Linked DNA regions of Homo sapiens: region 2 is linked to region 1. The links come from fine-mapping of genetic effects on gene expression. Tissue or cell type: whole blood. Region 1 holds a variant in brackets; the other region holds the start of a gene. All regions are shown on one strand. Distances are between the middles of the regions.

Region 1 (8,105 bases):
CATCAATAACCTTGTATCTATTAAAGACATTAGCTTAAAATACCTTCCTTCAAAGAAAACTCTAGGTCCAGAGGTCCTCATTATTGAATTCTACCAAACATTTAAGGAAGAAATAATATCAATTCCACACAAATTCTTCCAGACAATATTAATAGAAGAGGAGGAAACACTTCCCAACTTATTTTATGACAGCATCATTATCTGGATACCAAAACCAGACAAAGACATTATAAAAAAAGAAAACTATAGACAAATATCCCTCATGAACATGGCCATAAAAATCCTTAACAATATTTTAACAAATAGAGTCTAACATTCTATAAAATGGATAGTATATCATGACCACGAGGGCATTATCCCAGGAATGTAAGGTTGGTTTAATATTTGAAAATCGATATAATTCACCATCCCATAAACAGTCAATTAAAACAAGCAACAGCATAACCATCTCAATAGACGCAGAATAAGCATTTGATAAGATTCAACACCGATTCATAATAAAAACTATCAGAAATCTAGGAATAAATTGGAACTTTCTTAGCCTACCAACAGCATCTACAAAAAGGCTACAGCTAACATTACACTTTATTTGTAATAAGATAAAATGCTTCCTATAAGATCAACAACAATGCAAGGATGTCACTCTGGCCTCTCCTATTCAACTCTATAATGGAAGTCCTAACCAGTACAAGGAAAAGGAAAAATGGCAAACAATTTCACAAGTAGTAAACTGATTTTTTTCCCCCACATATGAAATGTCTATACAGAAAATCCCAAAAGAGCTATTAGAACAAATGAGTTTAGCAAGGTCACGGAATATATGAAAACCAACTATATTTCTATATACCAGTAATAAAAAAAATTGAATTTAAAATGCCATTTATTCAACAGTATAAAAATATTACTTAGGGATAAATTTAACAAAAGATGAAAAACACCTATGCACCTGAAAACTACAAAATATCATTGCTAGAAATTAAAGAAGAATAAATGTTTAAATATAGTCGATTAAGATGGCGGATAGGAGGCAGGACTACTCTATAGCTCCTGCCTGGACGGACAAAGTGGCATGTGGAGACTCACATCATGAACTTATGTTCCTGTGGTAGTTCTTGGAGCAAATAGGGAAAGCTGAGAGGATCCACAGACCCTTTGAAGAAACTGGATCACCCCTGAAGTTTCCCTGAGATGCTGAAAAACTGTGAGTCTGCTTGCTTTCTCAACGGGGAGGCTCATGGTCTGGGGCAAATTCTCAGCCCTGGTCACCAGCTGCCTAGAAATAGACTCGGTGCTGTTGAGGGAGCCACGGTGGGAGTGAGACTAGCCTTTAGAACTGCAAGCTACCCTGGGAGCGGAGTGAGGCCCGTGACTGCCGGCTTTCCCCCACTTCCCTGGCAACCTGTATGACTCAGCAGAGGCAGCCATAATCCCCCTGGGGGTGTAATTCCACTGGACTGGGAACCACACCCCCACCCCCATAGCAGCCGCAGCAAGCCCTTCCCAAGGAGGGGCTAAGCTCAGACACACCTGTCCCTGCCCCCACCTGGTTGGTGATCTTTCTCTACCTGTCTTGGTAGCCAAAGACAAAGGTCATAATCTCTTGGGAGCTCTATGGCCCTGCTCACTGCCTGAGAAACCTGAGTACTTAACCAGGTATGCCTAGGGCAAGTTTGCATCCTCCCTATAGGGCCACAGCTGATGTACTTTTGAAAGCACCACCTCCTGGCTGGAGGTCAACCAACACAAAGCCAGTGTACTAAACAAAAACACAACCAAGGACCCTCAAAGAGTCCACTTCACTTCCCTGCTACCTCCACCAGAGCAGGTGCTGGTATCTATGGCTGCAAGACCTGAAGATGGATCACATCACAAGACTCTTTGCAGACTCTCCCCAGTACCAGCCCAGAGCCCAGTAGCTCCACTTACTGGCTAAACCCAGAAGAGCAAAAACAATCACCACAGTTCAGTTCTCAGGAAGCCCCAATCCTAGGGGAAAGAAGAGAACACCACATCAAGGGAGCATCCCGTGGGACAAAAGAATCTGAACAGCAGCCCTTGAATCCCAGATCTCCCCTCTTATATACTCTACTCAAATAAGAAGGAACCAGAAAAATCATTCTGGTAATATGACAAAATAAGGTTCTTTAACACCCCTAAAAGATCACACCAGCTCACCAGCAATGGATTCAAACCAAGATGAAATCTCTGAATTGCCAGAAAAAGATTTCAGAAGGTTGATTATCAAGCTAATCAAGGAGGCACCAGAGAAAGGTGAAGTCCAGCTTAAAGAAATCAAAAACATGATACAGGATATGAAAGAAAAATTCTTCAGTGAAATAGAAAGCATTAATAAAAAACAATCACAACTTCTGGAAATCAAGGACACACTTAGAGAAATGCAAAATGCACTGGAAAGGCTCAGCAATAGAATCGAACAAGCAGAAGAAAGAACTTCAGAGCTCAAAGACAAGGCTTTTGAATTAACCTGATCCATCAAACACAAAGAAAAAATAATTTAAAAAAATGAACAACGCCTCCAAGAAGTTTGGGACTAGGTTAAACATCCAAACCTAAGAATAGCTGGTGTTCCTGAAGAAGAAGAGAAATCTAAAAGTATGGAAAACATATTTGAGGGAATAATCAAGGAAAACTTCCCTGGTCTTGCTAGAGATCTAGATATCCAAATACAAGCAGCTCAAAGAACACCTGGGAAATTCATTGCAAAAAGATAACTGCCTAGGCATACAGTCATCAAGTTATTTAAAGTCAAGACCAAGGAAAGACTCTTAAGAGCTGTGAGGCAAAAGCATCAGGTAACCTACAAAGGAAAATCTATCAGATTAACAGCAGATTTCTCAGCAGAAATCTATAAGCTAGAAGGGACTGGGGTCCTATTTCTAGCCTCCTTAAACAAAACAATTATTAGCCAAGAATTTTGTAGCCAGCAAAACTAAGCTTCATAAATGAAGGAAAGATAGTCTTTTCCAAACAAACAAATGCTGAGAGACTTCGCCACTACCAAGACAGCACAGGAACTGCTAAAGGAGCACTAAATCTTGAAACACATCCTCAAAATACACCAAAATAGAACTTCCTTTAAAGCATAAATCTCACAGGACCTACGTAACAATAACACAATGAAAAAAACAAGGTATTCAGGCAACAAATAGCATGATGAATAGAATAGTACCTCACATCTCAATACTAACATTGAATGTAAATGGCCTCAATGCTCCACTTAAAAGATACAGAACTGCAGAATGGATAAGAATTCACCAACCAAGTTTCTGCTGCCTTCAGGAGACTTGCCTAACACATAAGGACTCACAGAAACTTAAGGTAAAGAGATGGAAAAAGATATTCCATGCAAATGAACACCAAAAGCTAGCAGGAGTAGCTATTCTTATATCAGACAAAATAAACTTTAAAGCAGCTGCAGTTAAAAAAGACAAAGAGGGACATTATATAATGATAAAAGGACTAGTCCAACAGGAAAACATAGCAATTCTAAATATACATGCACCTAACACTGGAGCTCCCAAATTTATAAAACAATTACTACTAGACCTAAGAAATGAGATATCGACGGCAACACAATAGCAGTGGGGGACTTTAATACTCGACTGACAGCACTAGACAGAAAGTCAACAAAGAAACAGTGGACTTAAACTATACCCTACAACAAATGGATTTAACAGATATTTATAGAACATTCTACCCCACAAAATGCAGAATATATATTCTATTCATCAACACATGGAACATTCTCTTAGACCACATGATAGGCCACAAAACAAGCCTCAGTAAATTTAAGGAAATTGAAGTTATATCAAGTACTCTCTCAGACCATAGTAGAATAAAATTGGGTATCAACTCCAAGAGGAACACTCAAAACCATGCAAATAGATGGAAATTAAATAACCTGCTCCTGAATGATCATTGGGTCAACAATGAAATCTAGATGGGGATTTAAAAATTCTTTGAGGGCCGGGCGCGGTGGCTCACGCCTGTAATCCCAGCACTTTGGGAGGCCGAGGCGGGCGGATCACGAGGTCAGGAGATCGAGACCATCCTGGCTAACACGGTGAAACCCCGTCTCTACTAAAAATACAAAAAATTAGCCGGGCGTGGTGGTGGGCGCCTGTAATCCCAGCTACTCGGGAGGCTGAGGCAGGAGAATGGCATGAACCCAAGAGGCGGAGCTTGCAGTGAGCCGGGATAGCGCCACTGCAGTCCAGCTTGGGCGAAAGAGTGAGACTCCGTCTCAAAAAAAAAAAAAAAAAAAAAAAATAATAATAATAATAATAAAAATTCTTTGAACTGAATGATACAATCTATCAAAACCTCTGGAATACAGCAGAAGTGGTGCTTAGAGGAAAGTTCATAGCATTAAATGCCTATATCAAAAAGTCTATAAGAGCACAAATAAACAATCTAAGGTTATACCTCACAGAATTGGAGAAACAATGACAATCCAAACCCAAACTCAGCAGAAGAAAGGAAATAACCAGGATCAGAGGAGAACTAAATGAAATTGAAACAATAAAAGGTACAAAAGATAAGTGAAACAAAAAGTTGGTTCTTTGAAAAGATAAAAATTGAAAGACCATTAGTGAGATTAACTAAGAAAAGAA[G/T]AGAGAGGATCCAAATAAACTCAATTAGAAATGAAATGGGAGATGTTACAACTGATACCACAGAAACACAAAAGATTATTCAAGGCTACTTTTAACACCTTTACAAACGTAAACTAGAAAACCTAGAAGAGATGGATAAATTTCTGGAAATATACAACTGTCCTAGATTAAACCAGGATGATACAGAATCTCTGATCAGACCAATAACAAGCAGTGAGATTGAAATGGTAATAAAAAAAACTGTCAACAAAAAAAGTCCAGGACCAGATGGATTCACAGCTGAATTCTATCACACATTTAAAGAAGAATTGGTACCAATCCTATTGACAGTATTCCAAAAGATAAAGAGGAAATCCTCTCTAAATCATTCTGTGAAGCCAGTATCACCCTAATACCAAAACCGGGAAAGGACATAACAACAACAAAAAAAAACTACAGACCAATATCCCTGATGAACACAGATGCAAAAATCCTCAACAAAATACTAGTGAACTGAATCCAGTAACATACTGAAAAGATAATCCACCATGGTCAGAGGGGTTTCATACCAGGGATGCAGGGATGGTTTAACATAAGTCAATAAATGTGATACACCACATAAATAGAATTAAAAACAAAAATCACTTGATCACCTCAATAGATGCAGAAAAAGCATTTGACAAAATCCAGCATCCCTTTATGATTAAACCCTCAGCAAAATCGGCATATAGGGACATACCTTAAGGTAATAAAATCCATCTATGACAAACTCACAGCCAACATTACACTGAATGGGGAAAAGTTGAAAGCATTCCCCCTGAGAAATGGAACAGACAAGGATGCCCACTTTCACCACTTCTATTCAACATGGTACTGGAAGTCCTAGCCAGAGCAATCAGACAAGAGAAAGAAATAAAGGGCACCCAAATCGGTAAAGAGGAAGTCAAACTGTCACTGTTTGCTGATATGATTGTATACCTAGAAAACCCTAACGACTCATCCAAAAAGCTCCTAGAACTGGTAAATGAATTCAGCAAAGTTTCAGGATACAAAATTAATGTACACAATCAGTAGCTCTGCTATACATCAACAGTGACCAAGCTGAGAATCAAATCAAGAACTTGTGAAAGGAAAATATCTTGCACCCCCAAAATCACTAAGGAAAACTCAAGCTGGAAACTGCTTAGGGCAAACCTGCCTCCCATTCTACTCAAAGTCACTCCTCTGCCCACTGAGATAGATGCATATCTGATTTGCCTCCTTTGGAAAGGCTAATCAGAAACTCAAAAGAATGTAACCATTTGTGAATCACCCATCTGTGACCTGGAAGCTCCCTCCCTGCTTCTTGCCTTTGCTTCAAGTTGTTCCATCTTCCAGACCGAACCAATGCACTTCTTACATATATTGATTGATGTCTCATGTCTCCCTAAATGTATAAAACCAAGCTGTGCCCTGACCACCTTGGGCACATGTCATCAGGACTTCTTGAGGCTCTGTCACAGGCACATCCTCAACCTTGGCAAAATAAATTTTCTAAATTAACTGAGACCTGTCTCAGATTTTCTGAGTTCACAAACTCAACCCCTTTCACAATAGCTGCAATAAAAATAGAATACTTAGGAATATAGCTAACCAAGACGTGAAAGACTTCTATATGGAGAAAAACAAAACACTGCTGAAAGAAATCATAGATGACACAAACAAATGGAAACACATCTCATGCTCGTGGATGGGTAGAATCAATATTGTGAAAATGATCATACTGCCAAAAGCAATCCACAAATTCAGATCAATTCCCATCAAAATACTACCATCATTCATCACAGAACTAGAAAAAACAATCTTAAAATTCATATGGAACCAAAAAAGAGCCCACATAGCCAAAACAAGACTAAGCAAAAAGAACAAATCTGGAGACATCACATTACCTGACTTCAAACTATACTATAAGGCCATAGTTACCAAAACAGCATGGTACCGGCATAAAGATAGGCACATAGACCAATGGAACAGAATAGGGAACCCAAAAACAAAGCCAAATACTTACAGCCAACTGATTTTTGACAAAGCAAACAAAAACATAAAGTGGGGAAAGGACACCCTATTCAACAAATGGTGCTAGGATAATTGGCAAGCCACATGTAGAAAAATGAAATTAGATCCTCATCTCTCACCCTATATAAAAATCAACTCAAGATGGATCAAAGACTTAAATCTAAGACCTGAAACCTTAAAAATTCTAGAGTATAACATTGGAAAAACCCTTCTAGACATTGGCTTAGGCAAATAATTCATGATCAAGAACCCAGAAGCAAATTCAACAAAAACAAACATAAATAAATGGGACTTAATTAAACTAAAAAGCTTCTGTACAGCAAAAGAAATAATCAGCAGAGTTAACAAGACAACCCACAGAATGGGAGAAAATCTTCACAATCTATACATCCAACAAAGGACTAATATCCAAAAATCTACAAAGAACTCAGCAAGAAAAAATGAAACAATCCCAAAGGACTTGAATAGACAATTCCCAAAAGAAGATATACAAATGGTCAACAAGCATATGGAAAAATGCTCAACATCACTAATTATCAGGGAAATGCAAATTAAAACCACAATGTGATACCACCTCACTTCTGCAAGAATACCCATAATCAAAAAAATAAAAAAATAATAGATGTTGGCATGCATGCGGTGGAAAGGGAATGCTTTTATGCTATTGGTAAGAATATAAACTATTACAACCACTATGGAAAACAGTGTGGAGATTCCTTAAAGAGCTAAGATCTACCATTTGATCCAGCAATCCCACTACTAGGTATCTACCTAGAGGAAAAGAAGTCATTATACGAAAAAGATACTTGCACACACATTTATAGCAGCACAATTTGTAATGGTAAAAACATGGAACCAGCTCAAATGCCCATCAATCAATGAGTGGATAAAGAAAATGTGATACACACACACACACACACACACACACACACACACACACACACACCATGGAATATTTCTCAGCCATAAAAAGGAACGAAATAATGGCATATGCAGCAACCTGGATGGAATTCGAGACTATTATTCTAAGTGAAGTAATTCAGGAATGGAAAACCAAATATCGTATGTTCTCAGTCATAGGTGGGAGCTAAGCTATGAGGACGCAAAGGCATAAAAATGATACATTGGACTTTGGGGACTCAAGAGAAAGGGTGGGGGGTTTCGAGGGATAAAAAACTACACATTGGGTACAGTGTATACACTCAGGTGATGAGTGCACCGAAATCTCAGAAATCATCACTAAAGAACTTTCAAGTAACCAAACACCACCTGTTCCCCAAAAACCTATTGAAGTAAATTTTTTAAATTTTAAAAATCATATAATTTGTCCTAGGTTTTTACAAAATATTTTATGAAAATTATACATAAGAAGTACAGTATAACTGAACAACTTACATTCTAATGAAAACTTTGTTGCAAAACAAAAAATGTAGTATG
Region 2 (8,105 bases), 590 kb after region 1:
TCTCAGCTCACTGCAACCTCCGCCTCCCTGGTTCAAGCGATTCTCCTGCCTCAGCCTCCCGAGTGGCTGGGATTACAGGTGCCCACCACCATACCCAGCTAATTTTTGTATTTTTAGTAGAGACGGGTTTCACCAGGTTGGCTAGGCTGGTCTTGAACTCCTGACCTCGAGATCCGCCCACCTCGGCCTCCCAAAGTGCTGGGATTACAGGCGTGAGCCATTGCGCCCAGCCTCAAGGACTACTTTTTGAAGAGTTTGGGAAATCAAGATGGGACTCAGGGAGAGTGGAATCACCCTTCCTAAAGATCCTGCAGATACCCAGAACAGTTGGCACAGACCTGTCTAGGGAGGAACCCTGTCCCCCATGTCCTGAGGCTGCTCCCATCCCTTGGTTTCAGGGCTCCCTGTTTTATGGAGAAGCCTGATTTTATTCATTCTCATTCAATTCAGCCAACACTTGGTGAGAGCAGCTCCAGTGTGCAAAGCCTTCTGCTAGGTCTAACTTCCTCCTGTCAGACGTGAGGTTGTAGGATTTGGAGATGGCGCTACCAGGAGCCACAGTGCAGACAGGCAGGGTGTGCGGCCAGCTGTGGGTGAGCATTCCAAATCCAGGATCAATTGGTTGAACACCTTAAGCCAGCCCAGAGCAGGTATTCTGGAGCCTTGGGAGGTCAAGGTCTATGATAAAACATTGAGGGCATCACACATTGCTCCAAAAGTAGTAGTGACATAGAAGAAAATTAACATTTGCTGCTTTTTTCTCTGTATTCAGAACTGGGCTAAGTGTTTTACATTTGGTCTTCACAATTCTGCAAGGCAGGCATTATTATTCCCATTTAAAGCTGAGGAAACTGGCTGGGCGAGGTGGTTCCCGCCTGTAATCCCAGCACTTGGGGAGGCTGAGGCGGGCGGATCACGAGGTCAGGAGTTCGAGACCAGCCTAGCCAACATGGTGAACCCCCTCTCTACTAAAAATACAAAAATTAGCTGGGCATGGTGGTGGGCACCTATAATCCCAGCCACTCGGGAGGCTGAGGGAAGAGAATCGCTTGAACCTGGGAGGCAGAGTTTGCAGTGAGACGAGATTGCTCCAGCCTAGGTGACAGAGACTGACTTGGTCTCAAAATAAATAAGTAAAAAAAATAAAATAAAATACAGCTGAGGAAACGGACACTTGGGAAGGACTCTTCAGTTTGCCAGCAAGGAAGAGGCACGACTAGGAGGGGTCTCCAATCCGCTGGCCAGAACAATTTGGATATCCAGGCCCTTGTCGAACAAAAGGCATGTTGAGGACAGAAAGTAACTTGCTAATTGCTACCTAGGGTCTTATCCAAGTCAGCAGTGATCCAAATTAAGACTTCCTGACCTGTATGTAGTCCTATCTTCTGTCCTGAGCCAGACTGTGTCCCTAAACACACTGTGTTATTGGCATTTTGGCCAATTAAGTGACCTAAATATCTGGGGTGGGCCTCATTTATGGAGATTGAAGGACCTGGGATCAGGAGAACTCTGGGCAAGAAATTGCTCCTGGGGAAAAGAGAGGAAGCTTTTGCAAATGTCTGAACAGGTTTCAGAACATGGGGCCAAAGATCACCTTGTGAGAGTGAAAATGCAAATCAACTGCGATATGCAAATCAAGCAACCCAAACTAATTAGAAAATACTGGTTGCCATGGCACAGTGGCTCACGCCTGTAATCACAGCACTCTTGGAGGCCAAGGCAGGCAAATCACAAGGTCAGGAGTTCGAGACCGGCCTGGCCAACATGGTGAAACCCGCCCCCCCCCCCCCCCCCCGCCTCTACTAAAAATACAGAAATTAGCCGGACGTGGTGGCAGGCACCTGTAATCCCAGCTACTCGGGAGGCTGAGGCAGGAAAATTGCTTGAACCCAGGAGGCGGAGGGTGCAGTGAGCTGAGATCGCACCACTGCACTCCAGTGTGGGTGACAGAGCAAGCCTCCGTCTCAAAAAAAAAAAAGAAAAGAAAGGGACACTTTTAATCACAACCCAGAATTTCTGATCAGTTCTCTCTGGATAGTTCCAGCCCCCTCTGAGAGGTAGCTGTTTCTGTTTAGAGTGAAACAAGGTGCTCTGGGCCTGACAAACAGCTCAGTTTGCCTGGGCTATTAAGCTAGAGGCTAAAAAGGGGCTTCCCTGACTCAAGCATTTGGTACTCCCTCAAAACTTCAGTCAGACTGTGGCAGTTCCTGCTTGTCGGGAGGCTGGGCAGGATGACGAAAGGTCCCTTGCATCTAACCATTTCCCCTGGACTGCCTCCCCTCCCCACAGATCCCTAGCCCCTTGAAGCCATGCGGGGTCCAACCTGTAAAGTTGTTGGAGATTCTGCAATCCCCTCTAGGGCAGCAGTCTTTGAAGCTGCAGTACCACGTGGTCAGGAGGTCCAGGTACCGCTGGCCCAACAGAGGAAGGCGCCAGCCTGGAAAAGGAGGAGCTGTGAGACCGAGAGGAGACCATCCGGTGCTCTACAGTGATGCGGCAACCTTGCCACACAACTTGTCAGGGACAGAGGGACACCCAGAACTCAGATTCTAACTCCCAGCCCCGACTCGGCCCACTGTCGGTCCTCAAGCCCTGCGTCCAAAAGCAGCAAGGGAGACGGCAGTCACCAGGCATGTCCACAGCGGACGTTCCCTAGAGCTGTCAAGAGCAACACCTTCGAATAACGCCAGGGTGGGCTGGGAGATGGCACAGGCGGTGCGAGAGAATCTGGAAAGCGCAGGGATCAGGGGAGGCGGGGGACGGGAAGCCGGGCGCCAGGGGGGTGCGCAGGGGACGCGGGTGGGGCAAGGGCGGTGATGGGGCTCCCTGCTCCGCGGAGGCTGCCCCCGCCCACAGCCGGTACCGGCGGCTGAGCAGAGCAGGACTGCGGGCCCAGATGTCGCCCCGGACAGGAGCGAGGCGACCACAGCCGCGCCCGGATCGCACTCTGCTCCGCAGCGAACGGCGGACCGTGGGGACGGGGTCTTACCCAGGGGCCCCGTGGCTGCCTCCTCGTCCTCGTCACAGTCGTCGGGCCACACCTGGCAGCTGAAGAGCGTCCAGTACCGCTTGGAGAGGGCACCCGCCGCCCTGAGCTGCTCCTGCAGGCGCTGGAAGCCCGGCCAGGCCCAGGCCGAGCCCGGCTCGTCGGTTCCCTCCCACGGCCTGGAGGCGCCGCGGGGCTCAGGCGCGCCCGGGAGCAGCAGCAGGAAAAAGAGCCAAAGCTGGCGCCACGGACCGCGAAGCATGGCCGGCCCCGAGCTGCGGGACCATCCGGCTGCCGGCCTAGCCAGGCTCCCTTAAGCCCGGGGCGGTCAGGCGGGGACCGCACTTCCTAGGCGGGCTTGAACCCGGGATTGGTGTTGCTGTGGCGACCGGCGGGCCGGGCTGAGTGCGCACTGGCAGCCTCCGTACACGTGACCCAGGCGGGAACCCGAAACCCTGTCTGGGGTCCTGAGAGGCAGTCCCGAGACTGACTTCAGGCCAGGTGCAACTAGCCGGCTTCCAGGAAGCAGTTTATTCTGGGTCGTGATTGTGGTTGCAAAGAAGGTGAACTCAGGCTTTGAAATGGCCACTGTCAATCACTCCGCTAGGACTTTCGGACGGCTCTGGTGGCCCATCAGAGGCCTACCGAATAAGGACACTCCTGCTTTGCCTCGCGTTTGCAGATCAACTTCCCGCCAACCTGTTAGAGGAAGCCGGAAAACCGTCTCAGTCAGGAGCGTTAGGCAGGCCAGGGGAGTCAGCTGAGTGGAGAAGAGGCCCTGGAAAGAAGGGCACAGCTAGGTGCCTGTCTGGCCAAGGTTGCCCTGGCTCCTCCGCAGAGGGAAATGAAACCGCAGCAAAACACCAGCAGGTTTCCACAGTGGGAGTCCACGAAAAGCAAGAGGAAGCTGATTGACGGGCTCCAGTCTGGAGGTGTTTGGAGTTTGGAAACCCCCCGAGTCATGGGTAAATCATGAGGCGTCATGTCAATGTAATTATATCTCATAAAAATCCGAAGTACTGTGTGCACTTTCTTGACTAGGTTTGCAACTTTCAAGTGCTGGGACTGAGCAGCCCATCCGACACCATTGGCAAAAGACTACAGGGCCTCTTTCCCTCAGCGCTCTCTTCTCCATAGCGAGGAGCATGGAACAAGGCTGTTAGATTTCAGAAGAGCTTAATGCATTGTTTAAAATCACCTGGCTTACTTCAGCCAAGCCAAAAAGCCGTCTTGTCTTAGGAGAAAACTGCTGTCTAGAGAGATCAGAGGACTTGGCTAATGTCATATGTTTAGTGGCTTTGAGGTTGGGCCCTCCAGACAGTAAGGTGAATACTAGCACCGTGTCTCACAAATGTCACAGGCAACTTGATTCATCTGTTCACCCCAGTCTCTTAGATCACACCGTGCCAGGTCTGCTCCATTCTCAGCAGCTCACCAAATTTGTGCCTTTCATTCGAACAGCTACAGAAACTAGATAAAGCACCTTTGCTAGGACACGAGGTTGAGTTGAAAAGTAAAATGTTTATAGTGTCTCAGCCATTCAGTGTGATGTCAAAAACTTTTCATAGAGTAGCAGCCATGGCACCAGCCCAGCACTGTGTACATCGAGCTTGCGGAGTCCACCGGAGACAGTTAACAGCACATACACCACAGTGCTTATTGGAAAACCAAAAAAAATTAGGCAGGGTGTGGTGGCTCACGCCTGTAATCCTAGCACTTTAGAAGGCCGAGGCGGGCGGATCACCTGAGATCAGGAGTTCGAGACCAGCCTGGCCAACATGGTGAAACCCAGTCTCTACTAAAAATCCAAAAATTAGCTGAGTGTGATGGTGCGCATCTGTAATCCCAGCTACTCAGGAGGCTGAGGCAGGAGAATGGCTTGAACCCAGGGGGCAGAGGTTGCAGTGAGCCAAGATGGTACCACTGCACTCCAGCCTGGGTGACAGAGCAGGGCTCCATCTCAAAAAAAAAAAAAAAAGAAAAAAGAGAAAAGAAAAAAAATTAACTCACTCAACAAATGTCGTTTGAGTCTGAATGGCAGTCTAATATAGTGATTACCATTTTCTATTTGTGCAACCATGGATGTTACTGAACCGTCCCATGCCTGTTTCCTCACCTATAAAAAGGGATAATAAAATAGTCCCCTCATAGGGCTGCTGTGAAGATTAAATGAGCTCATTCAATGAGCACATCATCAACACTCAATACGTGGCCAGTTTTATTTTTGTATCTACCCAGCCATGGAGGAGGCTCTGGGTGGTCTACACAGGAGGCAAGGATGGCTTTAGTTAATACTGGTGGTTTATAAGTGAATTTATGGTGAAAAAATTAATAGTAACAATAGTTTATTAAAACAATCCAAGTTTTAAGATGTTGTGGAAAGAATTATCTGTACTTGGAACTTTTATGTAGGGCTACCTGCTCATTTCTGAGATGTTCTGACTTGGATTTAGCATCCCATTGTAAATAAAGTAGGTTAGCTGGGAAGTTCTTCGACAACCAACTTGATTTCAAGACATTTTTATTATTTATTTATTTATTTATTTATTTATTTAGAGACGGAGTCTTGCTCTGTCGCCCAGGCTGGAGTGCAGTGGTGCAATCTCGGCTCACTGCAACCTCCGCCTCCCCGGTTCAAGCGATTCTTCCCCCTCAGCCTCCCAAGTAGCTGGGATTACAGGCGTTCACCACCACGCCCCCGCTTTTTTTTTTTTTTTGTATTTTTAGTAGAGACGGGGTTTCGCCATGTTGGCCAGGCTGGTCTCGAACTCCTGGCCTCAGGTGATCTGCCTGCCTGCCTTAGCCTCCCAAAGTGTTGGGATTACAGGCGTGAGCCACTGCGCCTGGCCGTTTTTTTCCAAAAAAAAAAAAAAAAGAGGTAAACACTTTTTCACCAAAGAGTCAGTCCCGTGTAGAAACAATAAATCCAAACACCAGTTTCTAGATACGTCTCTTGAGTATTTCAATAAATACTCCTTTCCGTCTCAGGCCTTGGAGGCTGTGCTCGTTTTAAAGTTCTGGAAGCAGTATCTCATGGATGACGGGGACATCTAGAGGCTGCTGGGAAAACTACAGACAACTATGATTCTTTAGCAAGCATTACGGTGCTACTCAAGGGCGGTTCCAGAACCCCACCACTGGCATCACCCAGGAGCTTGTTAGAAATGCAGAATCTCAGGCCCCAGACATACTGAATCAAAACCTGCACTTTAAGAAGGTCTTTCTGTGCAGGGAGCCATGGCTCATGCCTGTAATCCCAGCACTTTGGGAGGCTGAGGCAGGAGGGTGGCTTGAAGCCAGAGTTTCAGACCAGCCTGGGCAATAAGGCTAGACCCCTTGTCTCTACCAAAAATAAAAATAAAAAATAAGCTGCGTGTGGTGGTGCGCGCCTATAATCCTAGCTACTTGAGAGGCTGAGGGAGGAGGATCACTTGAGCTCAGGAGTTCGAGGCTGCCAATGAGCGATGATTGTGCCATTGTACTCCAGCCTGCGTCAAAGCAAGACTGTCAATCCAAAAAAAAAAAAAAAAGCCTAAGGCAAAATTGGCACACAACACCTTTATTGATGTCATCTGAGTATGACCTAGCTTTACAACAGACATCTTCCCAACCCCACTGAAGGCAATCAGAACCATCTGCCTTGGAAACACTGGGTCAAAAGCAAGTCTCGGCCTGGGACGGTGGCTCACGCCTGTAATCCCAGCACTTTGGGAGGCCAAGGCAGGTGGATCACTTGAGGTCAAGTGTTTGAGACCAATCAGCCCGGCCAATATGGAGAAACCCCGTCTCTACTAAAAATACAAAAATTAGCCGGGCGTGGTGGCATGCGCCTGTAGTCCTGGCTACTCGGGAGGCTGAGGCAGGCGAATTGCTTGAACCTGGGAAGCGGAGGTTGCAGTGAGCTAAGATCGCGCCATTGCACTCCAGCCTGGGCACTGCAGTGAGATTTGGTCTCAAAAACAAAACAAACGCAAGTCTCCATATTTAAATAACCCTGCATGAGAAACATTACAGGAATGTTTCCCAGCTCATCTATGTTCCTTTAACATCTACACAGCACTTGAGGTGGACTGAGAATGTCCTCAAGAGACAGGGCACACAAACATTTCCTAGAACAATGAGAAACCCCTGAAGCGATATTTCTGGTGACCCAGATACTGAAAATACAGGCCCAGAAGGCCCTGTATCCACTAAGCAAATAGTTCTGCATTTCCGGAGTCAGGGGTTCTATACACACCTCTCGTCAAGCCTGGATCAATCTCCACTTTTTCAATGTAGGTACTGCCTAACCCAATCCCTCCCAATCCCCACCTCCATGATCCTCTCCCGTTTCTTATTCTCACTGCAATTAATTTATATAATTCCTGAGGGACTTGGTGCCTCACAAGCAGTTTTTTTTTTTTTTTTTCTGCCAGGTCTAGACTGCAGGCTCTTTGAGGGAAAAGACAGTCACTATCATCTCAATGGTATACCACAGCTTGCAGCACAATGGCCCACAGATCTACTGATGACAGACCAAATATCTCACAAATTGTGATTTAATACCATTATTCCTTGGGGCTTATACTGCAACTTACCTTACAAAACCCTACCCATGGAAATCCAGTGGCTATGACCATTCCTATCTATTTTACAAAATGACGACTGCTAAAAATCAGTCTAATAAGCAAACATACTAGGTAAAATTACCCAGTAACAGAGCCCCGCCCTCCCTACTCCCAGCTACCTTTTTCAAACTCTAATACCAGTCGTTCTGATATGCTTGAGAAGCAAATGAATCCTGAACTCTAGCCTGGAAAAGAATTTGTATGTGGTGAGTCAGTGAGATACACAGACCAGGCTCTACTAGCCTCCCACATGTATTCATGTACAAATGACAAAAACTAGCACAAATATGCTGCAAATAAAATAGTTTTGTTTTGTTTTTTGAGACAGAGTTTCGCTCGTTGCCCAGGCTGGAGTGCAATGGCACGATCTCGGCTCATTGCAACCTCCGCCTGCTGGGTTCAAGCAATTTTCCTGCCTCAGCCTCCGAGTAGCCGGGATTACAGGCGCCTGCCACCACACCCAGCTATTTTTTTTTTTTCTTTTTTTGAGACTGAGTTTCACTCTTGTTGCC

Evidence for each region. PIP is the estimated chance that this variant, and not a neighbour inherited with it, causes the effect.
Region 2: TOR3A starts here. The variant in region 1 is fine-mapped to the expression of TOR3A in whole blood (TOPMed, PIP 0.99).

The regions. Positions count from the first base shown.
Region 1 is chr1:179,671,459-179,679,563 of GRCh38, reverse strand. The region is part of intron 17 of TDRD5 (tudor domain containing 5); the gene reads right to left. Among named protein-coding and RNA genes, the nearest start is that of FAM163A, 68 kb to the left of the region's middle. The variant G/T (reference allele first, on the strand shown) is at 4,635.
Region 2 is chr1:179,077,272-179,085,376 of GRCh38, reverse strand. It overlaps TOR3A (torsin family 3 member A), which reads right to left and starts at 3,307. Exons shown (of 6, transcript NM_022371.4): 1 at 2,990-3,307; 2 at 2,324-2,437. The coding sequence starts at 3,248. RefSeq lists silencers at 1,683-1,742, 2,733-2,902, 3,043-3,332.